5 separate regions of the Homo sapiens genome follow, and all the other regions are linked to region 3. The links come from fine-mapping of genetic effects on gene expression. A gene starts in region 3. Each other region holds a variant in brackets. All regions are shown on one strand. Distances are from middle to middle.

Region 1 (5,107 bases), 34 kb after region 3:
GGCTCACTGCAGCCTCAACCTCCCAGGCTCAAGCTATCCTTCCACCTTGGCCTCCAAGCAGCTGGGACTACAGGTGTGCCTCACCACACCTGGCTAATTTTTTAATTTTTTGTAGAGACAGGGTCTTGCTATATTGCTGAGGCTAGTCTTGAACTCCTGGGCTCAAGTGATCCTTCTGCCTCAGCCTACCAAAGTGCTGGGATTACAGATGTGAGCCACCAACCCTGGCCAAAGCTGGTACTTTTCTGATTTGTGATTCGAATAAAAAATTCTGAGTGCTGCCTCCTGGGAACCTCTGTGAATGGATGCCTAAGATGGAGAAATACTTTGGGACAGCCCGCCTTACATGTATTTCTGCTCTGTCCCTCCTGCTTCTTGTATATTTTGGAAATGCAGTGATAAGGCTGGGGTTTACTTGTGCTCATTTTCCATTATCTTTCCCACATTTTAATTGGACAATATCTAAATTGCTTCTCTGTATCCACTTTACCTGTCTTTTATATTTCCAAGCCCTCTTTCAGCTTTAGCTACTGAAAATGCCATTGAAAACAGTTTAAATAAATAACTCATACAGGGAGAATATCATTAAATTTTAAATATTGTCAAAAGAATGTGCTGTAAAGTATACTGAATTCCTCCTTTGTAAAATTCTGGTATAAGTGGTTTTACTTCTTTATACATTTAAAGTACATGTAAGAAATTTAGTATGTATCACTTGTGCTATTGTTTCTAACTTGGTTGGAGGGTGGGAGGGTTTAAAGCTGGGAAAGGGAAGGAACTATGAAGGAGTCTTTTACTAGACTGACATTTATTCCACCAATTCATTGTCTTTGGATATTCTGCTTAACCACCTGCAAATCTATTCAGCGTATCATTATTTAGGCTGCATGTCTCTATTCTTGGCTACAAGAGTGTTTTAAGAGACTTCATACCATGCCGACATCTAAATATGCTGTCTAAAGCGTTGTCATACCCACCATTCTCCTAACCATGTCAAAAGGAAATAACGTGTTTGGCATAACTTATTCTTAGTGAAACCCTGCTGTTTTCTACTGATTGCCTCTTTTCATTGCCTCTAAGTTCTCACAGACCACTTATTTGGTAAACTATTTTAGAGGTGTGCAGGGTAGGACATCAGGCTCTGTGAGTCTCAGAATCTACCTTTCCTCCTAATCTTTGCCCATCCCAAGACATCAGTTCTTTCCCTGTAGCTGGATGTTGCCTGTGCTGCTGGGTAAGGCAAATCTCTAACTAAGAAGTCATTGTATGTATTAGGGGAACCAGCCCCTGATATTTCAACATAGGTTCTTTTCTATTTTCCCTAAGTGCCGGCCGGTCTGAGAAATAAAGGGAAAGAGTACAAAAGAGAAAAATTTTAAAGCTAGGTGGCCGGGGGAGACATCACATGTCAGCAGGTTCCATGATGCCTCCTGAGCCGTAAAAAACAGCAAGTTTTTATTAGCAATTTTCAAAGAGGAGGGAGTGTACGAATAGGGTGTGGGTCACAAAGATCACATGCTTCAAGGGCAACAAAAGATCACAAGGCAGAAGGTCAGGGCGGGATCACAAGGTCAGGGCAAAACTAGAATTACTAATGAAGTTCCATGTCCCACTGTGCACGCATTGTCATTGATAAACATCTTAACAGGGTTCAAGAGCAGAGAGCACATCTGACTAGAATTTGCCAGGCTGGAATTTCCTAATCCTAGCAAGCCTGGCGGCACTGCAGGAGGCCAGGGCGTGTTTTATCCCTTATCTGCAGCTGCATAAGGCAGACACCCCCAGAGTGGCCATTTTAGAGGCCTCCTCTGGGAATGCATTCTTTTCCCAAGGCTGTTAATTATTAATATTCCTTACTGGGGAAAGAATTCAGCGATATTTCTCTTACCCGTTTTTGGTAATAAGAGAAATGTGGCTCTGTCCTGCCTGGCTCCCAGGCAGTCAGACCTAATGGTTATCTCCCTTGTTCCCTGAACATCGCTGTTATCCTATTCTTTTTTCAAGGTGCCCAGGTTTCATATTGTTCAAACACACATGCTTTACAAACAATTTGGGCAGTTAATGCAATCATCACAGGGTCCTGAGGCGACATACATCCTCAGCTTACGAAGATGACAGGATTAAGAGATTAAAGTAAAGACAAGCATAGGAAATTATAAGAGTATTGATTGGGGAAGTGATAAATGTCCATGAAATCTTCACAATTTATGTTCTTCTGTCACGGCTTCAGCAAGTCTCTC[C/T]GTTCGCGGTCCCTGACTTCCCGCAACAGTATGGACTTTTTTGTGGGAAAATTATTTGTGTGGATCTACCAAGGAAATGTCTGCAGAGTCCACTTTGAGAAAAGCTGACTTGAGAAACTGATTTTCTGGACACATTGTATCAATTATTTCTGTAAATGAGAAGTCACTGAACTGGTAAAATATATATCTTTTAGATTATCCAAAAAAATGAACATGCAATTAAGATTTTTTTTAAAGCTCAGTTCCCTGGGACAGGGACAGGGAGTGCGGGCATATGAAGATCTCAGATAAGAAACAGTGGTTAAGGCTGGGCACAGTGGCTCAGGCCCGTAATCCCAGCACTTTGGGAGGCCCGAGGTGGGCAGATCACCTGAGGTCAGGAGTTTGAGACCAGCCTGGCTAACATGGTGAAACCCCGTCTCTACTAAAAATACAAAAATTAGCTGGGCATGGTGATGGGTACCTGTAATCCCAGCTACTTGGGAGGCTGAGGCAGGAGAATCACTTGAACCTGGGAGGTGGAGGTTGCAGTGAGCCGAGATCGCGCCATTGCACTCCAACCTGGGCAACAAGAGTGAGACCTTTGCTGTTAAAGGGTGGTCCCTGCAGCAGCAACATCATCAGGGTGCTTCATAGAAATACAGACTCTCAGGCCCTAATCCAGCCCTGTTGAATCAAAATCTGCATTTTGACACCATCTCCAGGTGATTCATATACAAATTAGGTTTGAGAAGCTCTGGAAATCATTTTCATGGGACCGTCCCTCTCTGCAAGTGAACTGGTAGAGAGATAAAGACTCATCTTGTGAAGTACCTGCAGATACTAAATAGCATAATTAGGAAAATCCTTTTAGAGTGAAAGGAATTCAGATATTTATTGTACATTGTTGGCTCAATACAATTGTTTAATATTGACCTTCCCACACTGTACCTTGTGAGATTTAAGATGTATGCAAATACAATGACTATTATTTTCAAAAAATGATTTTTGTAGTCATTTTACTAGCCATAAGCCAGAGTGCTCAAAACCTTTCCCCCTTTTTCTGCTTTCTGTATTCTTTCTAAAGGTGGCTAAATTGTCGAAGTTATAATTCAGCATGAAGAGAAAACTCCAAGAAAAAAGGCTTTAGCTGGGGCCATGCCTCTGTTGTTTGCATCCTAACTTTGTTAGAGCTCCTTAAGCACAGTAGAGCCTCGTCTGTTCCATGACACTGCAGGCTTGTCGCATAACCCTATGAGCAGTAATCAACTGGACTCCAGATGTTGCTGTCTCACATTAGCCCAACGTTAGCTTCAATAATGTTGATGGCAGCTTGATATATATCAGGGTTTCCTAGCTTTCTTAGATGTCTTACTTATATTGGGGGTGATGAAGGAATTGAACCTCCTCCCTTTAGCTGAGACATCCCCACGTGTTTCTGAAGGGTGGACATGTCAGGTAGGACTCTGATGGGCTGGTGTATGTGCTGTTGAAGAAAATACTTTAAGCCAATGTCAGATTGCAGGTGCATCTTACTGGCTCACTCAGGTGGGAGGGTCTAATGGGAACTGTGGGTGTTGTGAGCTGGCAGAGGGCATCAGTATGGTGTAGTGAAAAGAACATTGTGTTTCTAATTAGGTAGATGTGGTTTGAATCCCAGCTCTCCTGCTTATTAGTTCTGCAACCTAGTAGCAGTTATTTAGTCTCTGATTTTTGAGTTCCATAATTGTAAAAATAGGGTTAATTTCTATCTCCCTGGGTTGTTGTGAGACTCTAATGAGATGATGTATTAAGAGCCTAATATAGTGCCTGGCATAGAGTAGGTGCCCATTGAATGGTAAGTTCACATTACTAATCCATTTGGTATATTAAACAATTCCATACAGGTTTTTTTAAATGCCTGCCCCAGCTAAACTAAGTAAGGATTTAAGTAGCTTCTGATAGTTTTGCCCATCAAATGTATTTTCAAGTGATTCTTTGCCAGGTAAGCATCATCTTCTGTTATTGCTGCTGTGGCAGACACAGGCCTTCAAAGGCACAATGCTGTCAACCTGGCAGATTCATCAGCTGGATCAGAGCCAGCAGGGATTACATGTCCAGAAAGCTGAGAATATTCCATTTTACACAAGGGATACGCCAACATGTCAGCTAGAATCAAGGAAAAGGGACTACGTGCTTAAAACAATAGCAAGTGGTAAAAAGAGCTTTGGTGAATTAATCACGTTCAAATGGTTGCAGTACCTGGTGTTGTTTTCTATGAAGAAGGCTATGAAATGCAACATTTTGTTTCAAAAAGTATGCTCATGCTCATATAGTATCCTGGAAAGGACATTTTTCTTTATAATTATAAAGGGTGTAGAGTTTGATGTAAAGCTCTCCAAATTCACAACTCTGCTTATATCAGGAAACCAGGAGGTGTGGCACAAAATCCTAACTTATTAGTGTTCTACCTGTGAATATTTGACTGTAGACTTCTTCCATTACTTTTCTCTCTCTATCTCTGAATCTGAACCCATAGCCCATCTGAGTTTGAAAGCTCTGATTTTAGGTATTGAAGTAGTGCCTTGGTTATTTTTTAACTTTTAAGTGGTTGCTGTTTAGAAAATGTTAGAAAAATAACTTTAATCAGATTTAAGAAAACTACTGGATGAAGAATATTTTTTGTTTTGACTAAATTACATTGATTCATCTTTTAAATGGGGATTATAATGGTACCTATTCCATAGGATTAGTATCTACCTTACAGAATAAATAAAGTATTAATAATATATGTGAAGTGTTTAGTATATGGTGCTTGGCATGCCATAAACATATTTTATAATCGTGTTAAGTATTATTAATTTTTTGCTATTGGTTTCTCTCTGCTTACAAAACAGAAATTTTCATTG
Region 2 (5,107 bases), 350 kb after region 3:
TATCTAAATTGCTAGCAGTGTTTGTGGTGGTTTTAATTTTCAGGAAGAATCATCTCCATATTTCTGGCCTACTCTGTTTCAGTGGGCTTTGTTTGATCTTGAAACTGGGTTGTACAGCCTGATATCAATGGAAGTCACTATAACAAATTCCACATGATACCAGGGCAGGACTACCTAACCTCATTTCCCCTCTGGAGGAATCTTCTGTTCCTTTGAATAAAATAGCTTCTCCTTCTACCAGGATTCCTGAAGGTTTTGTGAAAGCAACATTTCAAACAGATTTTTTTAAGTGGTCTGATCCTCCTTGTGACTATAATTTCACCCCTTTTAGTGGTGTGAGAATAATATCTTGAAAATTATGACAGTAATAAATTTTAATGATCTTCATTGAGAATTCCTAGGAACCTGGTAAACTTTCCCCCTTTTCCTCATTCCAAGCACGTTGACATGTATTTTCAAGTGCAGAAGAGAGAGGGGCTTTGGAAACTTTGACTCACTGCTTTTTGCAGCTGTTAGAGTGCTCACCAAAATTTGTCAAAATTTTGGAATGTGAAGGTTTGTTTTTCTAGGACCATTATAATGCCAATCCCAACCTCAGTGATGCCAGAAGGAAAAGATCTTTCCAAACACCATGTGGCTTATTATGCCAAATATGGGACCCAGAAGTTTATTTAAGCTGCACATTTCTAGGAAATTAAATGCAATAACACCTAATTTATCTGATATTATTGGAGATGTGCTCTCTTATGTGGATTTTCCAGGTAACCAAAGCTATGATTTTAACTGTATGAGAATTTGTTTGACCCCCTATTTGCTGAAACTCTTTCATAAATATATTATATTTCTCTTTACTTTCCTATACACTGCACATTGAGGATATTTCATGGTTTGGGGGGATCATTGTGCCTATGAATCATGATGCAGAGCTCTTGTTACTTGACTAGAGCTGGACTCCCTGGAAACTAGCACCAGCAGAAAGTCACCTTCAACAGAAGTAAAACACTCAGAGAGCACAGAAGAGCCCTGTGGGTCTTTACTAAAGATTGTCTTGAGGGGATGGGTTGTGAGAGGGAATTATTTCTCCCACCACATTGTGTGCCCTTAATGATCTTCGTTTTCTTTCTCCCACCACAAAGTCTTAGCATTTTACCAGCTGTTTATGTCATCTTCTCTTTTCACAAACAGTTCCTCTTCTCTGCTCATTCTCTCTCTCCTTTTCTTCCTTCCTCCCTCTCTATTCCTCTCTGTCTCTCTCTGTGTGTGTGTGTGTGTGTGTGTGTGTGTGTGTGTCTGTCTGTCTCTCTCTCTCTCATCTGTCCCTCTCCCTTTCCCCACCTTTCCTACAGTCCCTGAAGTAGCTTTAGAGTTGTTTTTAGAAAAGGTGTTTGATCCCTTCCCTTGACTCAGCCCTACAAAGATGATCTAGGAACCAAATTGCACAAATGAAGGATGCTCCCTGGGTGGGTAGGGATGGGGAAGTTGTGATCCCAGAGACCAAAAGAAAGCCACAGACACTGTCTCTCTCATAGTATAGAGACTTAACTTTTTGTGTTGTTAGTCTCCCTTGTCCTCACCCATAGAGCTATCAGAGGGTGCCTGCTATTGGCAGACCCTTTACATTTCCCTTTAATAAATCACTTCCCTGCCAAGATCTCTGTCAAGGTTTGAGAAGTCAGAGCATTAAGTTATTTTCAATAAATGGTATGTACATGAACATCAGCAAGCTCCAAGAAATGACTCGAGGGCCTTTTACTACTCAGAGAATAAAGCAAAAATGCCAGGTTTTCAGTGCTTGTGCTTTGTGCCAGGGATTTGGACGTGTTTTTTGTTAAGTTCCAGCGTTGAGCTATGTTCCAGAAGATGGAGCCTTCCAGAAATTATTGTAGTGCTTGATGTTTTGTTTTCATTCACTCACAGGGCATTTGTTTTAAATGTCATAGGGATTTTTTGAAAGTGAACCAGGAAAGAGATGAGCGTCTGAGCTGTCCCAGGACAGAGGCATGGAGCCATGCTGGATCAGGCTAAGATCCAGCCCCTGTCCAATACGGAGAACCAGTGCTAGTCATCAGAACAGTCCAGGTTCTGGGTCACACACCCAGAATCAAAAAAGACTGAGACTGCCCGGGAGTTGGATGCCAAGCTATTTCTAGTGTCTTCTGAAATATTTTGTCAGATAGAATTCTTTAGTTTGTATATGATTATGCAATTTTGTAACAGTATATGAAAATAGGGTAACACAATATAGAAGTTCTTTAGACCTGCCTAGCAATGACAAAGCAAAAACTCCCTAGTGTCTGTTACTGAAATTTTTTCCTGCACAGTATTAGCAAAATGCTGACTATCCATGAAGTCAGCCCTTCATTTGATGTAACATTGATCTTTTGTACCTGATTTTCTTTAAGACTGTAAAGACCATAAAATTCCTCTGTCTACAAAGTATTATGACCTAGAACTTCACTTGTAGTTCTCACACAATTTTATTAGCGCAATCTTCCAAGAACATTTTGTATTTCCAAAGTGGAAGTAACATCATTCCTGCTCTGGAATTTCTTGGCAATTATACCTCACTTGTATTAAGAATTTGACAAAGGCCAACAGCATAATTTACTGTAATTTTATTTATTTATTTATTTATTTTGAGACAGAGCCTCACTCTGTTGCCAGGCTGGAGTGCAGTGGTGCGATGTCGGCTCGCTGCAACCTCCGCCTCCTGGGTTCAAGTGATTCTCCTGCCTCAGCCCCCCAAGTAGCTGGGACTACAAGCACACCCAGCTAATTTTTGTGTTTTTAGTAGA[G/T]ACGGGGTTTCACCATGTTGGCCAGGATGGTCTCGATCTCCTGACCTCATGATCCACCGACCTCAGCCTCCCAAAGTGATGGGATTACAGGCGTGAGCCACCGTACCCAGCCAATTTACTATAATTTTAAAATGAAATAATGTGTAAATGACTTCTTTCATGATGGAACTATGAGCAAAAGAATTTTTGCATTTAACAATTGCTGTCTCAGAGTTTTTATAATTAAATCCCTTTACCTAGAGTATAAACAGAATCAGAGCTAATTTTTATTGTGTCTGTATTGATATTGATGGAATGCATTATGGCATTTCCCACGTCCTTTTAAGCATCTCAAATTATATAGGAGTAGTTAGTGTCTGTGCTGTTTTTTAAAGTAATCAGCTCTTAAAAAAACATGTTTCTTGGCAGGGCACAGTGGCTCATGCCTGTAATCCCACCACTTTGGGAGGCTGAGGGGGGTGGATCACAAGGTCAGGAGATCGAGATCATCCTGGCTAACATGGTGAAACCCCGTCTCTACTAAAAAAATACAAAAAAATAATTAGCCGGGCGTGGTGGCAGACGCCTGTAGTCCAAGCTACTCAGGAGGCTGAGGCAGGAGAATGGCATGAACCCGGGAGGTGGAGCTTGCAGTGCCCGAGATCGTGCCACTGCACTCCAGCCTGGGCGACAGAGTGAGACTCCGTCTAAAGAAAAAAAAAAAGTTTCTTTTGTGTCTTAAAAGATTTTCGTTCAGTTCCTTGTTCTTCATTTTTCTCTCTCTTATCAATGATTTTGCTCTTGAAAGTTGATTCATTACAGCTGCGTTCTGCCCTGTCTGGGTTTTCTAGTCTGCAGTTTCTCAGACTGGAGCACTGACACTGATTGTGCCACCCTTGAGTGGACTTGAACTGCACGGTCCTATCCCTCATTCATCTAGGAGAGCAGCCTTGTGTTCATGGAGATAATGTTCCTTCGTGTTGCAAATTATGCCTTTCGGTACACAGGAAACATTTGCCCTGTGTTAGTCCCTGGATGCTGCCCATGTGTTTCACTGGTGATGTTTGACCTTCTTATAAGGGAATAGTGGTTCTCAGCCATAGCTACACATTACACATTGGAATCATCTGGACAGTTGTATTTAACACTCATGCCTGGGTCCCACCCCACATTCTGGGTCTTTACACATTTTGTTGTAATGCATCTTGGGTGTGGCCTGAACATTGGAATTTTTAAAAGCTTCCTAAGTGATTCTAATGTGCAGTCAAGATTGAGAACCCCTGCCTAGGAGTCTCTTCTGCTTCCCAGATCTTTAAAGTCAAGTTTATTCACTTGCTTTATGACATAACTCAGCTCTTTGCCCAGCTATACAAACAGATCTCCAGACAGATTATTGGTCAATAGCCAGTTTTGTACAAATTCATTAGTAAAATCTCAATTCATTTCCCTGTCTTTAGTATTCACCTCTATGCAGATAACAACAGCTAACACTTACGTGGGATCTCTTATGCAACAGTCACTGCATAAAGTGCCATAAACACACTAACTCAGCTCATCCACACGTGTGGCCCTGAGCTCTCACCCCAATTCCAGCCCTGTATTTTTCAGTCTCTAGGGCATTTTGTTAGCTGTCATATCCAAGTCAATATGTATAAAGTTTCACATGCCCTTGTCCACCTGCATCACTTCCCACACTCTTCATAGCATCAGGTAGATAGACTTGGCTCAAATCCCAAATCTACTGTCACTGGAATATGACTTGGACAGGAAACTGCACCTTCATTTTCTTTAGTTGCAAAGTGGTGTGTGATGGTCCTAGTAATACCCGCTTCGTAGACTTGTGAGGATTTCTCAAGATCCCCTGTGTAACGTGCATCATCTGTAATGTACAGCAGGCGCTTAACAAGTAAGACCTGTTGTTATTGTTTAAATACACTTTATATTATCATCATGCTTCCCATTCTTCTTTCTTGCTTATCTATTCTTTTCCCAGTGCATATTTCACATTGTAGATGTTTCTCTGAGTCACTCACTCCAGTCTAGTCCTTATCCCCTCAGGCTTCAATTACTGCAACAACTCCTAACTGGGGCTCTTTCCTCTTGCCCACCCTTAATTTACTCAACACACTCTGAAAATAATTTCTTAAATAAAACACCATTTGTATGTTATTCTTCTGCTCAAGAACCTATAAAGGCACTGTTCACTGCATCATGCCCAAACTCCTCTGCTAGGTTTTAAAAATTCTTGTCATAATTTGGCTCCAACCCTTCTGATCAATTTCATTTCCCATTTACTCCCAGCACTCCTCCTCCACTCTAGGCTAGCTTGGTTC
Region 3 (5,107 bases):
AAATTTATTTTTCACAGTTCTGGACGCCAGAAGAATGAGATCAGGGTGCCAGTGTGGTTGTGATGTGGGTGGGAAGGCCCTCTTCCAGTTGCAGACTGCCATCTTTTCTTTGTATCCTCAAGAGGCAGAAAGAGGGTGAGAGAGCTCTCTTGGGTTTCTTTTATAAGGGCATTTATTCCATCACCTCCCAAAGGCCCCACCTCCTAATACCATCACATTAGGGGTTAGGATTTCAACACATGAATTTGGGGGAGCACAAACATTCAGTCCACTGCAAATCGCTTGAGATTAAAATATCTTACTTTGGAAGCTTTTATAAAAATATAAGACCACATGAACATGTCTCTCAGGCTCCTTCTGTGTTGTTGGAAGAGGGCTGGAGTATAAGTTTCTTGGAATCTGCCTTTGGGTTTAGCTTTGGCCATATGCTTTAGAAGGAGCAGTCACAAACCTTGGCACATCTGTAGAAAGGAAGTAACCTAGGATGATGAAGGGTCAGGACACATTGCCATGTGTCCTGCATGACTTATGGGTCATGCAAAGATCTTGGAAAAGAGACAATTCAAGTGGTTCACAAGTTTGTCTTCAGTGCTTGGAGTACTCTCAGGTGGAAGAAATATTTCAACTCAATATAAGGGATCACTTCCTAATGTCAGGCCAGTTTCAATGCAGAATTGACCAGCTTGTAAAGTACTGAGTTCTCTTTAAGGGAATGGCTCCAGGAGAGGATAAGTGAGACCCGGTCAGAGATCTTGTGAAGGAGAGTGGTGGTGATGACGAACGGGGAGTGCAGTGTGAAAGAACCTACCTAATCTTTACACACCTTTGCAAGTTTGAGATTTTTAGGATGACTTTGCTATTAATGTTCTTTGATGCCTTAGTCTCGGTTTTAATGGTCGATATGTAGAAAGTTTTAAAGGTAGTAGGGGCTGCTTTTAAAGTGAGAGAAAAATGTTTTTTAAGACCTAGGGCAGCAATAGTGATTCACTTTGCCTCTATTCATTTTTAGGGTTCTTCTTTCTCCCTCCTTTCCTCCCTTCCTCCCTTCCTCCTCTTTTCTTTTCTTTCTTTTTCTGTTTTTCTTTTCTTTCTTTCTTTTTCCTCCTCCTCCTCCTTCTTCTTCCTCTTCCTCTTCTTTTTTGACAAGGTGACAGGGTCTTGCTCTGTCTTCAAGCTGGAGTGCAGTGGTGCAATCACAGCTCATTGCAGTCTTGAAATCCTGGGCTCAACTGATCTTCCTGCCTCAGCCTCCAGAGTAACTGCGATTACAGGTTCAGGCCACCATGCCTGGCTATTTTTATTTTTATTTCTTTCTTTATTTAATGTATTATACTTTAAGTTCTGGGATATATGTGCAGAACGTGGAGGTTTGTTACATAGGTATACACGTGCCATGGTGGTTTGCTGCACCCATCAACCCATCATCTACATTAGGTATTTCTCCTAATGAGATCCCTCCCCTAGCCCCACAACCCCCGATAGGCCCCTCCTCCCTGATGTGATGTTCTCCTCCCTGTGTTCATGTGTTCTCATTGTTCAGCTCCCACTTATGAGTGAGAAAACGCAGTGTTTGGTTTTCTGTTCCTGTGTTAGTGGGGTCTCACTATGTTGCCCAGATTGGTCTTAAACTCCTGGCTTCAAGAGATCCTCCTGCCTCAGGCATGATTACAGGTGTGAGCCACTGCACCTGGCCCATTTTGACTAGAATGTAACATAGTGGTTAATCAACACAAAGAAGCTAAGGATTGCAGGTGTGGGGTTGCTGGATTTGAGTAAGTTGTGAAGGAGAACATCATGTGGGAACAAACCTCTAGGATCCCTGTTCTTCCAGCAAGAACTGGAATTGGGCCTTTTGTGGGGTGGGGCTCTTTGATTCTGTGGAGGATCCTAACAGTGATGCCTGGGCTGATAGATCCAGGGGACTAAGAAGTCAGGGCTCCTCTGAGACATGTGACAAAACACAGCTGACACTGACTTGAAATAAAAGAGAGAGGATTTATTGGCTTCAAGGGTAGAGTTCACTGCAGACACATCTACCTCCTGAGGTTCCTGAGAGGGTGGGACATCACCCTCTCACCAGCAGCTTTTCTTCCCTCAAAGTTGGCTTCATTGGCATGCACTGTTGGTCCTTGTTACCGTAGGCTTATATCCTTCCAATTTAGTTATCCTAGTTTAAAGAGCTTATTTTTCTGCAGTAATACATCCAAAGCCCTAGGCCGAGTTCCTGGATCAACATGCCCAACCCAGAACCGATCACTGCGGTCCGGAAGATGACTGGCTAGTTCTGGGGGTTGAGGGTGGGAGGTGTCAGTACCCTGGAGCCACAAAGACTCATTGTGGGTGAGGGGGAAGGGCAGTTCCCATAGGAATAATGAACTGCTGTTACCAGAAAAGGCGGAGAAATGGATAATATTGAGCACACACTCAAAAGTCCCAAAGGAATGGCTATCCATTATTTGGGGACTTACTCCATATGGATATAGTTAAATTGTAAAATTGAATAAATCTTCCCTAAATCTGGACAGATGCAAGGGTGGGTGGGGAGGGACACAATATATTTACACTTTAGCATTTTTACTTTTTCTCCTACGTGGGACTGGTTGATGAAGATGCTATAGAAGTAAACAGAAAGCCGAAAGTATTAATACAGTAATTTTAAATTTTAGTGCCCTCTTTAGGCAAAGTATCTGGGAACGCTTTCAATAATCCATTTTTTCATCGTGACCACACCCTGTGTGTGCGACATGAGTATTACCGTCTTGCCCTTGCAGTTGGGGAAACCGAGGCATGACACTCCCCTATTCAGCTTTCTGGTGGGGTTGAGGAACAGTGTTGTCTGCACGACCTCAGAGGGTCTCCTCCACCCTCCGCGACACCTCTAGGAATCCTCCTGTCCTTCGACTTCGCAGAAGGAGAGCAACTCAGGCTCCGCCGCAGCCTCGGGACTCGTCCTCCGCCCAGCCGCACCCGCCCCGTTCTTCCGCACCTTCCTCAGGGAGGTCCCGCTGGCCAAGGTCTGGCTGTCCCTCCTGTCCTCTGCCCCCGCCTCCCTTCCACCGGTCCCCGACGTGCCGCCAGCTCCCAGCCCAGCGTCCCGCAGGGCGGTGCGGGCAGATGCCGCCGAAGCGTCTAGCGGGAAGGGCGCCGGCGCGGCTGGAGGTGAGGAGGCCGGACTCTTCGCTCTCCGCGGACCGGGGCACCGCGGCTGGAGCGGACGCCCGGCACCCGGGCGGGAGGAAGGTGGCGGCAGGGAGCGGCGAGAGGGTGGCGACGCAGGCGGGTCGGCGCCTGGAGAGCGAGCGGCGGGGAGCCGGGCGCTGCGGGGCCGCTCGGGGCCGCGCCGCGCTCGGCCACAAACCTCCCGGAGGCGCAGGACCCCCGGCGCCCTCCCGAGCGCGGGCGGGAGCCATGGCTTCGCGCGTCCCCGCTGCCGCTGCTGACTCGACACAATCGGCGGGTCGCGCGGGGGCCGTGGCGTAACCCGGGGGTGGGTGGCGGCGCGGAGCCGCCTCGAGAGCTCTGGGTGTCGCTGGGAGCTAGGAAGATGCCAGCACAAAGGCGAGCCGAGACCCAGCCCGCTGCGGAGGGCGGCGGGAAGAGCCGCTGAGGGGCGCGCCGAGCGCGCTCTGCCCCTGCGCCGCGTCTCTCCGGGCGCTTCTCGCGGTCTCGGGGTCGGGGACTGCAGCGCAGAGACTCTCGGCTCCGTGGCAGCGGCCGCAGCAGCCGTGAGCTGCATGCAACGCGCGGCGGCGCCCCCGGCCGCCTGCTTTCTCCTCGGCGCGCACGGACCGGCCGCAGGGCGCCGGGGCCGCGGGTCCGGGCGACTTTGGGGGCGCCCTCCCGCCCCGCGGCCGGGTCCCCACCCGCAGCTTGTGGCGACGGGCGCAAAGCCCAGGTGAGCGCGCGGCCCTCGCCGCAGGTAGCGGACGGCGGGAGGTGGCTTTGTTTTTCCTCCCTTGCGCCCCGGCGCGGTCATTCATTTGCCATTTCGGTTTCCGCTGCCCAGGATGTGTTGGATGGTTTGGTTCTCCAGGGAAACTGGGACTTTGGGGTCTATTTGAGCATCAGTTGAGGGAGAGGACGCTTCATTTCCTTTTTGGTTGGGAATGTGCCGTGAACATCCTCTGCTGGAGCTTGGGGCCTGGAGCAAACTGGGGCTGCAGATTTAGACGTAGACGTTTCCGAGGACGCGAGACTGCAGAGGTCTGACTCTCTCATGCCTTGTCTTCACTATTAGCAGCGCTCGGGTGCTTTTCGTCGTTTATTATTATTAATTTAGAGAACATCTTTACAGGCACATTTCTTTTAGAGTTAGAAGTCTTTGGAGTCAGTACAGAGAGCTCACAATTAGAGTTACAAGGGTTCAATCGATATTAAACTTCAGGAAGGAAAACATTTGTGATCATTACAGATAGAGGTGGACAGCATGCAAACTTCGGGGGCCTTTAGCTTTTGGGTTATGATTTCTGCTTTCACTGTCCTAGACTCACGCAAACTGTTTTCGTATATATATACCTTTGTGAAAGTGTGAAACTTGTCTTTTCTGGAGTAGTGTTCTATAGTTTGTCATTTAGAAGAAGAATATTTTAGTGTAATTAGTAGAGCTCTCCATGTGTTTGTCTTATAAATATGATTTTCTTTTTACTATTTCTCCTATTCCCTCGAGGGTTCATTTCTTCTGTTGCTTTGAGAGAGCTTTTTTTCTTTCTCTTCCCAACAGATGGCTGTATGTTCCAAGAGGTTATCTTTAAAATGACACACACATTATCTACAAAGAAAGAAAGATCAGTTATTGACTTTATCTTTGGAGTTATTAAAATAAAAGGCCTAATCTGGATGGGGATATTATTAATGGCGTGAAAATCTGGAGTTTGCTAATCTGTTTGGTCATCAGAAGATTCCTGCGGGGATTGTTTATATAGCGTGGGAGACAGATGGCATCCCTAGCAGACTAGAGAAGCCAGGCATAAAGGGTCATTGTATTCTTCAGAAATTATCCACTTCACTATTAGAGGTGGGGTAGGGTGGGGTGGAGGGTGGCAAAGACATTTTGATCTCTTAAAGGAGACACTGTAACGTTACTATCCAGCAGTCTAACCAGCTTTAA
Region 4 (5,107 bases), 380 kb after region 3:
GCCTTATTACAACGTCCACACATTACCCATCTGATATGGAAAATAGAAGCAAGGACTAGTACAAAAAGTGTTTGAGATTGAGTGGAGATAACTGGAGCTGGAGCAACAGAAAAGGAGCATATGAACAAAAGAGGAATGGAAGAAAATTTGTTTTAGAATTCCTTTATCCAATTAGTAGTAATACTGTAGCATTTTTGAGGTAAAAAGGAGCTGAAATTGCCTCTAACTTTACTAATAATACAACTATACTCTAGAGAGATTAAATGATATTAGGTACCCCAAGATGTTATCCTAAATTGAAGTATAGATGACTTTGAGAAACCTATTTTATTAGTGATATTAGGTGATATTATTGTTACTATATAAGGTGACATTAGGTACCCCAAGATGTCATCTGTTTCTTTAAGTACAAGCAACTGAGCAATCTGTTATCAAAGCTTTCTTCTTAGCAATTGAAAGATGCCAGTTCTTAAGAACTGTATTGTCAGCATCAACAGATGAGAAAAAGGGTGCTGAAAATACAAATGGAGAGAGCGATAAAGAATGACTGCTCAAGGGTTTGCCTGAGCCTCCTTGGCCACCCCACACGCATCACAGTCTGAACAGGCTGTGCATCCAGACACCTAAGTATTACCTGGCATATTTGATTTCCAAATCTGGGAATTCATTATTTGATTTCATTATTTAAAGAACTAGCTCATTTTATTTATGCTTGGATAATGAGTTTTCTCCCCTTCAACACATAAATCAACAGATTTAGCCTATCTGAATAAGGCTTTTTACTCTTCTGAGAAACTCTTTAAGAATTTGCATTGAAGAAGGAAAGGGTAGATTAATGGTCAGCTTTTTGTTGAAATCTATTTCTGTAAAGCCACTAAAGTATATGGAATAAAGTGCAACAGTAAGCAGATATGTCCACTGTTCATATTTAATCACTGTAATTTTCACCAAACCTGATGGGTAGAGACAAGTAATTTGATATAGACCTGGAGCTTTAGCTTCAGAGAGACCTAGGCTGAGTCCCACCTCTGTTACTTACCTGCAGCAGGGTCTTGGTGAAGTTGCATGATCCTTCTGAGCCTCTGTTTCCTCATCTATCTGGTGGATTTGAAATTCTGAGGATGATGTGAAATCATTCATGAAAAATACTTAATACTGTCTCTGGCCATGAGTAAGCATCCAGTCAGTGATCGCTGCCATTGTGATTTCTGTCACCATCATCTGTAATACATATCAGGCAGGATATTTGCATATTGGAAAGAGGGCAGGGGTAGGAGTTAAAAGACCTAGCTTCTAGTCCCACCTCTGCCACCAGCTAACTCTGGGACCTTAGAGAACACTTCATCTTTGAGCCTTGATTTTCTCATTTGTAACAGGCCTGGAGGAGGTGGTATATTAGGTTGGGTTGAGCAAGAAGTAACACCGAAGGGTTGCTGAAGAATCTTGAGGGTCAGGCTGGATTTGCATTTCTGCTTCCCCCTGGAGCTCCAGGAAGTTCATGTGCTAACTCATTGTAAATGGTGGTATTCTTCATTATTGTAGCATACACACAGTTGGGTAACAGGCACTGTCCTTTCTCCCTGTCTTCACTATGACCTAAGTTTGCTTCTACATTCCTAGTTTTACCCAGATTATAAAACAGCACAAATAAAGATGGTCTTAGGCACATTGAGCAAGCAGCCTCTTTTCATACCCTCTCCGTAACAAGCCCCATCTTTTGGGGTCTGATGAGAAGAAAGAGTTACTTGGCTTTTCTGCTTCAGAGTTGCAGTCACCTTATGTAACCCAGGTAACACGCAGGAGCACAGATCTAAGCCCTATGACACACTAGTTACATCATCCTAAGCAAAACCCTAGATCCATCCCTCTAAGGTAGGAGTAACAATGTTCAGAGTATTTTTGACAATTGTAAGATAATGTATATGAAAGGCTTAGGAACACTGTGTTTACTTTGTTCTTTTTTAACTTTTTATCCTGACTTTTGTAAGCCACTGTACTACTTTAACTATTAACATTGGCTCCACAAAGAATAAAAGTACATTCGGAGGGAAAAAATTAAAAGAACTTAATTGCATGACAGTATAGTTATATGAGAAGCAACTTCTTCATTGACAACATTGTCATCACCCTTAATGAAATGTGGGGCATTACTTAGGTGTAAAAAAAGATCTGTAAAATTGGTTCTGGCCTAAAGAGATTCTTTTATATTATCAAGTCCATTTCTCCTACCATCAGAACAGATACACTGAAGCCATTTTTCTGCTATTTTTTGATAGGCGTTAAGTTGCACAATGGAAGAGCTGGTCTGTCTCAAGCTAGTTGGCCCCAGTGTATTTCTTTTTCCTATGAGTGAAATGATGTTTAACATTTAAAATGTGACATGGTACAAAAAAATAACAGATGCTGGTAAGGTTGCAGAGAAAAGGGAATGCTTATACACTATTGGTGGGAGTATAAATTAGTTCAACCATTGTGGAAGACAGTGTGGCAACTCCTCAAAGATCTAAAAACAGAAATACCATTCAACCCAGCAATCTCACTACTGGGTATATACCCAAGAGAATATAAATCATTCAGTTATAAGACACATGCATGTGTATCTTCATTGCAGCTCTGTTCACAATAGCAAAGACACAGAATCAACCTAAATGCCCATCAATGGTAGACTGGATAAAGAAAATATGGTACATATATACCATGGAATACTATGCAGCCATAAAAAAGAATGAGATCATGTTCTTTG[T/C]AGGAACCTGGATGGAGCTGGAGGCCATTATCCTTAGCAAACTAACACAGGAACAGAAAACCAAATACTACATCTTCTCACAAGCGGGAGCTAAATGATGAGAACACAAGGACACATAGAGGGGAATAACACTCACTGGGGCCTAATGGAGGGTGGAGGGTCAGAGGAGGGAAAGGATCAGGAAAAATAACTAATGGGTACTAGGCTTAATACCTGAGTGACAAAATAATCTGTAAAACAAACCCCCAGTGACACAGGTTTACCTCTATAACAAACTTGCACAAGTACCCCTGAACTTAAAATTAAAAAAAAAATTACATTGCACACATGGGAGAAAAATGGATAGATGTCCTTCTTACTTAAAAAATGAATCCTGGCTGGGCATGGTGGCTCACACCTGTAATCCCAGCACTTTGGGAGGCCAAGGCGGACGGATTGCCTGAGGTCAGGAGTTTGAGACCAGCCTGGCTAACATGGTGAAACCCTGTCTCTACTAAAAATACAAAAATTACCTGGGCGTGGTGGCATACGCCTATAGTCCCAGCTACTCGGGAGGCAGGAGAATCGCTTGAACCCAGGAGGCAGAGGTTGCAGTGAGCCGAGATGGCAATGCTGCACTCCAGCCTGGGCGACAGAGCAAGACTCTGTCTCAAAAAGAAAAAAAAAGAATCCTCTAAGAAGTCTGGCATGGTCTTGTGTCGGGCATGGGAGTTTCTGCCCTGGAGGGTTGGAGGGGCTGTAAAGGATGAGGGCAGTCCTGGCAACCGGAGCAATGAGGGAGAGAATCTTAGTCTTTCTAGACAAGGATGATGGAGGGCCTTTCAATTTTCAAGCAGGCAAATGTGAGTCTCATTCTTTTCTCAGATTTCCTAGTCTCACTTTGCGGTAGCAGTGGATAGCGCTGCTCACAGTATGAGTCAAGGAGTATATAAAAGTATATATGGTTGTCTCTGCAGCCAGTGCAAGTTGAATCCATGGCTCTTTTTTCCTCTTGTGGTTATGAAGTGACTAGAGACCCAGATGATAAATAAGGATGTAGACAGAAGGGTGTCTCCATGGAGACCTACAGCCTGAGCACATGACTGCACTTCCTCTGCTTCGCGGTCGGTGGTTAGCTCTGTATTTTGCATTTCTGTGGAAGACTTCATACCCCTGGTGCTCTGATGGACTTTATGAAAAGAGAGTACATTCACTTTGTGGCAATTGCTCTCAAACAGTCCAAAAAATGCGCTGCTAAGATGCCAGCCTGAAAACTGCAGAGCAGTCCTGTCTCCCACCATGGTGTGAGTTTCTGTGTTCATCCCCCAGGTTCTTGCCAAGTTGGGTGATGGGACGGAGGACCTGAGAGCTGCAATCGTCATGGGGGTGTGTTGGTTATTGCCAAAGGGAAAAGCGTTAATTTTTGAAAATGGCTGTGTCTGGAGATTATTATGAATGAAATGCTAACTGAAATTAAGAAATAAATTGTAAGAGTTAATTATGAAATAGATGTCTTATGGAGACAGTTAATCTAATGGAATAGAACTTTAAAAGATAAAATTATTTTTTAAAAACATAACAACTTTTTGTTTTTAAAATTCTGCTTTTTGGCAGAGTGCAGTGGCTCACACCTGAAATCCCAGCACTTTGGGAGTCCAAGGCAGGCAGATCACTTGAGGTCAGGAGTTTGAGACCACCCTGGCCAATATGGTGAAACCCCCATCTCTACTTAAAAAAAAAAAAATACAAAAATTAGCCAGGCATGGTGGTGTGCACCTGTAATCCCAGCTACTCGGGAGGCTGAGGCAGAAGAATCACTTGAACCCAGGAGGTGGAGGTTGCAGTGAGCCAAGATCATGCCACTGCACTCCAGCCTGGGTGACAGAGTGAGACTCCATCTCAAAAGAAAAAAAAATCTGCTTTTTATTCTAATTTATAAAAAGAAAATTTTACAAAAAATTGCTAAGAAATATATGTATATATTAAATATATATTAAAATACCTACATATGTATCAATCCAATGTCCACCCAATGTCCACTACTAGCTGGTCATGGTGGTGCATGCTTGGAGTCCCAGGTACTTGGGAGGCTAAGGCTTGAGCATGGGAGTTTGAGTCAAACCTGAGCAACATAGAGAGATACCATTTCTGAAGGAAAAAAAAGTCAATTACTAAGATAAGCTCTGTTAACATGTTAGAGTATGTGATTTCACTCATTTCTTCAGGTACACACAGGCACACAGACACACACATACACACACACACACATTTTAAAACAACATTCCGTTTATCACATGGAACATCTTTCCATGTCATTAAATATTGCTCTGTAATGTTATCAATAATTCAGTTTTCCCTCCTCCATTATAGGGAGCATTGTCTACT
Region 5 (5,107 bases), 320 kb after region 3:
TGTTGCCCAGGCTGGCCTTGAACTTCTGAGCTCAAGCGATCCACCTACCTCAGCCTTCCAAAGTGCTGGGATTACAGGTGTGAGCCATCGCGCCTGGCCCAAGAACATGCTTTTTAGCACTTGGTTAGTTAATTGTTAGTTGTCTCCTTGTATTTTGGTTGGAAATTCAAGTTTTTGCCAATTTGTTTTTATCTGAGCACCCTTTCTCCCAGGCACAGCCCTAAAAGCTATTGGGGATAACAGAGTGACTAAGATACAGTCACTACTGCAAGGCTTTTGCAGTATAGTTCTTTTGAGAATGGATTTTAGACAAGCCTCTTAACATCACATTAGGCTATGACACTACATACAAATCATAGTTGACCTACATGTAGACACCCATTTGTCTTTATAATTACAAGTGCATCATTGTACCGTTAATGACCACCCATCCCTTCAAAACATTCCTAAGAAATTAGGTAAATAGGCCATTCTAATTTATGCTCTTTGTATTTTTCCCTTAAACAAGATGGTTAATAGGATTGTGTTAGTAATAAAAGCTTGTTACTCTCCATTTACATACAGAGGATATGGGTTTGGTTCTAATATGTATTATTTAAAAATAGGTATTAGCCACATCCATTGGTGCAAAATAGTTTAATTGCTATTTTATGACATTTTGAGTAGTGGCAGAAATAGTGGACAATTGTATTAGAAGCACAAACCAAATGGGACCAATGTGACATTTGGGGTCAGAACCTGTCAATGCAAGTCCACACAGGTTTTATCACTGGAGTACTTTTTACAAGACCTGAGAAGAAGGATGTTTCACTCAAGGTTAGTGAAGAGGAAACATTACCCAGGATGTGAGGCTGATGACAAAATCTCACACAAAACCTTTATTTTTTTGTACCCAGAATTGGATAGTAAGAGAAAGGACTGGGAAAGATTCCTGTTCTGTCCATTTTTCTGCTTTGTTTTCTGGTACATCCATTGCTTAAAGTTATTTCTTTATAAAGATGTAAAAATGTTTTCTATATGGGACCTGCCCCATTTCTTGATGATGTACATAGAGTTCCATATGAAACATTCTGTTCCATAATGGGAAAATAGGTTTCTAAATAGGCATAAATATACTATCTGCCTCTGGCATTTGCCTAGATACCTTCATCTCTAGGTGTTAAGGTACTTTGTTAACTGAGCTCCATTGGTTTGAAAGGTCAGTTCTTTTTTGCCTGTTATTTGGCATACATCATGTGCCTTGATACTTGGTTTATAGGTACTGAGTCTCCTGGCTCTCCTAATAGCCTCTTTCATCTTTGATGACCTAATTAACTATCTGATCATGGAAAACTTACAATTTCTAATTGTACTTAAGATAATGGGTTTCATTATTACCTTGAGTCAATTTTACTTTGAAAACTTACAACATTGGGCCCCTAAGGATAATGATAGATAGCACTTGTATAGTTTTAGAATTAAACAAACAGACCAAAAAATGCTTTGCTACATTGTAGTCCATCTTACTGCAATGCTGAGGTAAATGGTTTATGCTCATTCATGATTTCATGTTATCAGAGATTCTGCAGTGATCATGACAGACATGGCTTCCATTCTTCTAACACATTATGGGGGAGAAATGTCAGGAATGAAGGAGACATGTTTTTGTAAGAAACATATAGCTCAGAGAACTTAAGTGACTTACCCAAAGTTCTAGACGGTATGTGATGAGTTTGTATGGGTGTGTAATGGGCGACTAAACTGGAAAGGCATGTAGGCAGACTGTTAAAGAGTAATGAAAAACTGACCAAAGAGTGGGAATGTCTTTTCTGTGGACAATGGATAGCCATGAGAAGCTTTGTATTGGGGTGGTGATGTAATTGAAGTGTTTAGAAAGAATATTCTTATAGTAACGGGCCAGTTAAATGACTATGGTGATAGAGATGTGGAGCAGCTGAGAAGCCACCAGCACTTACACACATAAAATAAAGTCCCAAAATAATGGGGTGGTGTTCAGGCTGGGAGGGGACAAATAGAGGACACTACAGTGAGAAAATGAGAAGGATTTTGTGGCTTACTGTATAGGAGAAGGAAGAAAGAAGAGAAGTCAATGATGTTTAAAAGTTTCGGCCAGGCGCGGTGGCTCACGCCTGTAATCCCAGCACTTTGGGAGGCCAAGGCAGGCAGATCACGAGGTCAGGAGATTGAGACTATCCTGGCTAACACAGTGAAACCCCGTCTCTACTAAATACACAAAAAATTAGCCGGGCGTGGTGGTGGGCGCCTGTAGTCCCAGCTACTCGGGAGGCTGAGGCAGGAGAATGGCATGAACCTGGGAGGTGGAGCTTGCAGTGAGCTGAGATCGCGCCACTGCACTCCAGCCTGGGTGACAGAGCGAGACTCCGTCTCAAAAAAAAAAATTTTTTTTTTTAAGTTTCAAGGTGGTAAGAACTTTATAATAACCACATATGACAGTAAGAGCTCAAAGACCATCAGTTAAGAGAAGCCTAAATGTCCATTCTTCTGGCTTCCTTCTTGGATCATGTCTTTGGTGACTATCTCGTGGAGCATTTCCTAAAACCAGGCATAATGTTCCTTCCTGCTCTCTTCGTTCTGGATCTCATCTAAGCTTGGCTTTCTCTAATCTGATCTGTCCTGTGTGGGTAAGGAGAAATTTCCCCAAAGATTGAAAATTATGAGAAAATAGAGCTAAGATTGTGACTCAGAAGT[G/T]AGTCTTTTCCTGACCGTCTGATGTTATAAGTCAGCTAAGACATGTGAGCGGCATGTATTTGACTCAGTGTATTGTATCCTAGGCATTCTTTGTGGACCACAACTCCCGCACCACCACTTTCATTGATCCCCGGCTCCCACTTCAGAGCAGTAGACCCACAAGTGCGCTGGTTCATCGGCAACACCTGACAAGGCAACGCAGCCACAGTGCGGGTGAGGTGAGTCATGCGTTTTGGGGACTGACCTGTTGGTTGATAGAAGCTTCTAGTATGTGATGGTTTGAGGAATTTGACTGATTTTTTTAAAGCATTTTTTCTTTTTTTTTTTTTTGAGTTTGATTTAGAGGCTGAAAAGCTTTCGAATGTTGACAGGGCTTCTCTGGAAATACATACAGCCTAAATCACAAATTTAAAAAGGTAGGATATATGAGGCAAAACTGACGAAATTTAAGATTTTTTGACTCAGAGGAAGGTGAGAGGGTGTTGATAATGTACTAAAATGTTCGAGACAGGAAGATGATAAGCCCATTTGCACACCCATTTTCAGCCTCACAGGAAGAAATGAATATAACTTGGTTAAATGTGGAATTTCTTTATATATATATATATATATTTTTTAATTATACTTTAAGTTCTAGGGTACACGTGCACAATGTGCAGGTTTGTTACATTTGTATACATGTGCCATGTTGGTGTGCTGCACCCATTAACTCATCATTTACATTAGGTATATCTCCTAATGCTATCCCTCCCCCCTCCCCCCACCCCATAACAGGCCCCGGTGTGTGATGTTCCCCTTCCTGTGTCCAAGTGTTCTCACTGTTCAATTCCCACCTATGAGTGAGAATATGCGGTGTTTGGTTTTTTGTTCTTGTGATAGTTTGCTGAGAATGATGGTTTCCAGCTTCACCCATGTCCCTACAAAGGACATGAACTCATCATTTTTTATGGCTGCGTAGTATTCCATGGTGTATATATGTGCCACGTTTTCTTAATCCAGTCTATCATTGTTGGACATTTGGATTGGTTCCAAGTCTTTGCTATTGTGAGTAGTGCCACAGTAAACATACGTGTGCATGTGTCTTTATAGCAGCATGATTTATAGTCCTTTGGGTATATACCCAGTAATGGGATGGCTGGGTCAAATGGTATTTCTAGTTCTAGATCCCTGAGGAATCGCCACACTGTCTTCCACAATAGTTGAGCTAATTTACAGTCCCACCAACAGTGTAAAAGTGTTCCTATTTCTCCACATCCTCTCCAGCACCTATTGTCTCCTGACTTTTTAATGATTGCCATTCTAACTGGTATGAGATGATAGAATTTCTTAAGTGAAGTTTTCTATATTACATTAAAATATCCATCCAGGGATATGGGATTATGGAATCCTCACTAGTATTCTTTAAAATTAGGATATTTTTGAGAGAGTTGATTTATATACTTTATGTGCCTGGAGAAAAAGGGCTGAACTAAGAATTACTAAAAACTGCTCTACTTTACCGATTTGCAGGGACCAATGGTAACCACACGAGGGCCCTCTAATATCCTAACCAAAAAAAAGAACAAACCTTGTTTCAGTTCTTCCTTTTGCAGCTTCAATATATAAAAGAAATGTCTTAAGTCAAGTTTTCTTCTCCTTCATATGGGCTTATGATTTGATTATATACCATCACTTGATTTACATTGTTTCTGAAAATTCCCTTAGACAATAGAATTTGGATCCTTTACCCACCTTTACATGCCTTTTCTGTGTCTATGTGCATGTCATATTTTCAGTATTATATTGTACATCAAATATCTTTGTAGCCATATATTTTGTATAAGAAAAAATATGAATACAATAAATAACTGGATCTGATTCATCAAAATTCTACTCTTGGAATTTCCCCTCGTGATTTATATACTTGCTCCAATGCATCATGTGTTTGCTGGTTGTAAGTGCAGATATAGAAGGGTGCACATGAGAAGCTCATATAAAAATGATATACAAATATATTACAGGATGAGGTATGTGCAAAAATTTTTCTGTTTTATGAGTAGCTAATAAATCTTTACCTTGCTGTCATGTAACCCATTAGTGGTGAACTGAATGGCACTAACAACATTCATCTTAAAAGCAGAACAGACCTCTCACCTTTGGACCTTGTGTGCGATGTGTAGCACAATTAGGGCTCTGTCTGATATTTTATTGCATAGCCCGTGCCCTTTAACCACTCACCTTATCATGACTTCACAGTATGAAGCTGGCTGTTTGGTCTAGTTAGGACTATTTTTCTGGGAAAACATGCATGAGATTAATAGCTATACTTTCATTTTCTTTCAACCCCTCTACCTTAAAACATGAATATTTTCATGGTCTAGTAGTAGTAGCCTTTATGAGAGAGGGACCCTAAGGGATA

Alleles and levels. Positions count from the first base shown, and alleles are read on the strand shown. Sizes are in standard deviations (SD) of each study's normalised expression. Not every link is listed here.
In carriers of allele T in region 1, the expression in coronary artery of the gene that starts at base 3,113 in region 3 tends to be higher than with C alone (large effect, 1.5 SD a copy in GTEx).
For the expression in monocytes after LPS of the gene that starts at base 3,113 in region 3, allele G in region 5 goes with a higher level than allele T (large effect, 0.86 SD a copy in Quach 2016).

Evidence for each region.
Region 1: its variant is fine-mapped to the expression of HECW2 in coronary artery (GTEx, PIP 0.99).
Region 2: its variant is fine-mapped to the expression of HECW2 in whole blood (TOPMed, PIP above 0.99).
Region 4: its variant is fine-mapped to the expression of HECW2 in whole blood (TOPMed, PIP 0.98).
Region 5: its variant is fine-mapped to the expression of HECW2 in monocytes after LPS (Quach 2016, PIP 0.95). The same link has a PIP of 0.9 or more in monocytes after Pam3CSK4 and monocytes after R848.

What each region holds. Positions count from the first base shown.
Region 1 is chr2:196,557,885-196,562,991 of GRCh38, reverse strand. The region is part of intron 1 of HECW2 (HECT, C2 and WW domain containing E3 ubiquitin protein ligase 2); the gene reads left to right. Among named protein-coding and RNA genes, the nearest start is that of HECW2, 33 kb to the left of the region's middle. The variant C/T (reference allele first, on the strand shown) is at 2,241.
Region 2 is chr2:196,244,781-196,249,887 of GRCh38, reverse strand. All of the region lies in intron 19 of HECW2 (HECT, C2 and WW domain containing E3 ubiquitin protein ligase 2), which reads left to right. Among named protein-coding and RNA genes, the nearest start is that of HECW2-AS1, 13 kb to the left of the region's middle. The variant G/T (reference allele first, on the strand shown) is at 2,796.
Region 3 is chr2:196,591,560-196,596,666 of GRCh38, reverse strand. It overlaps HECW2 (HECT, C2 and WW domain containing E3 ubiquitin protein ligase 2), which reads left to right and starts at 3,113. Exons shown (of 29, transcript NM_001348768.2): 1 at 3,113-3,159. RefSeq lists silencers at 3,155-3,424, 3,505-3,884.
Region 4 is chr2:196,210,148-196,215,254 of GRCh38, reverse strand. The region is part of intron 28 of HECW2 (HECT, C2 and WW domain containing E3 ubiquitin protein ligase 2); the gene reads left to right. It overlaps LOC124906154 (small nucleolar RNA U13), which reads left to right; the gene lies at 1-36. Among named protein-coding and RNA genes, the nearest start is that of STK17B, 41 kb to the right of the region's middle. RefSeq lists an enhancer at 3,480-3,529. The variant T/C (reference allele first, on the strand shown) is at 2,744.
Region 5 is chr2:196,276,348-196,281,454 of GRCh38, reverse strand. It overlaps HECW2 (HECT, C2 and WW domain containing E3 ubiquitin protein ligase 2), which reads left to right. Exons shown (of 29, transcript NM_001348768.2): 15 at 2,793-2,927. Among named protein-coding and RNA genes, the nearest start is that of HECW2-AS1, 19 kb to the right of the region's middle. The variant G/T (reference allele first, on the strand shown) is at 2,710.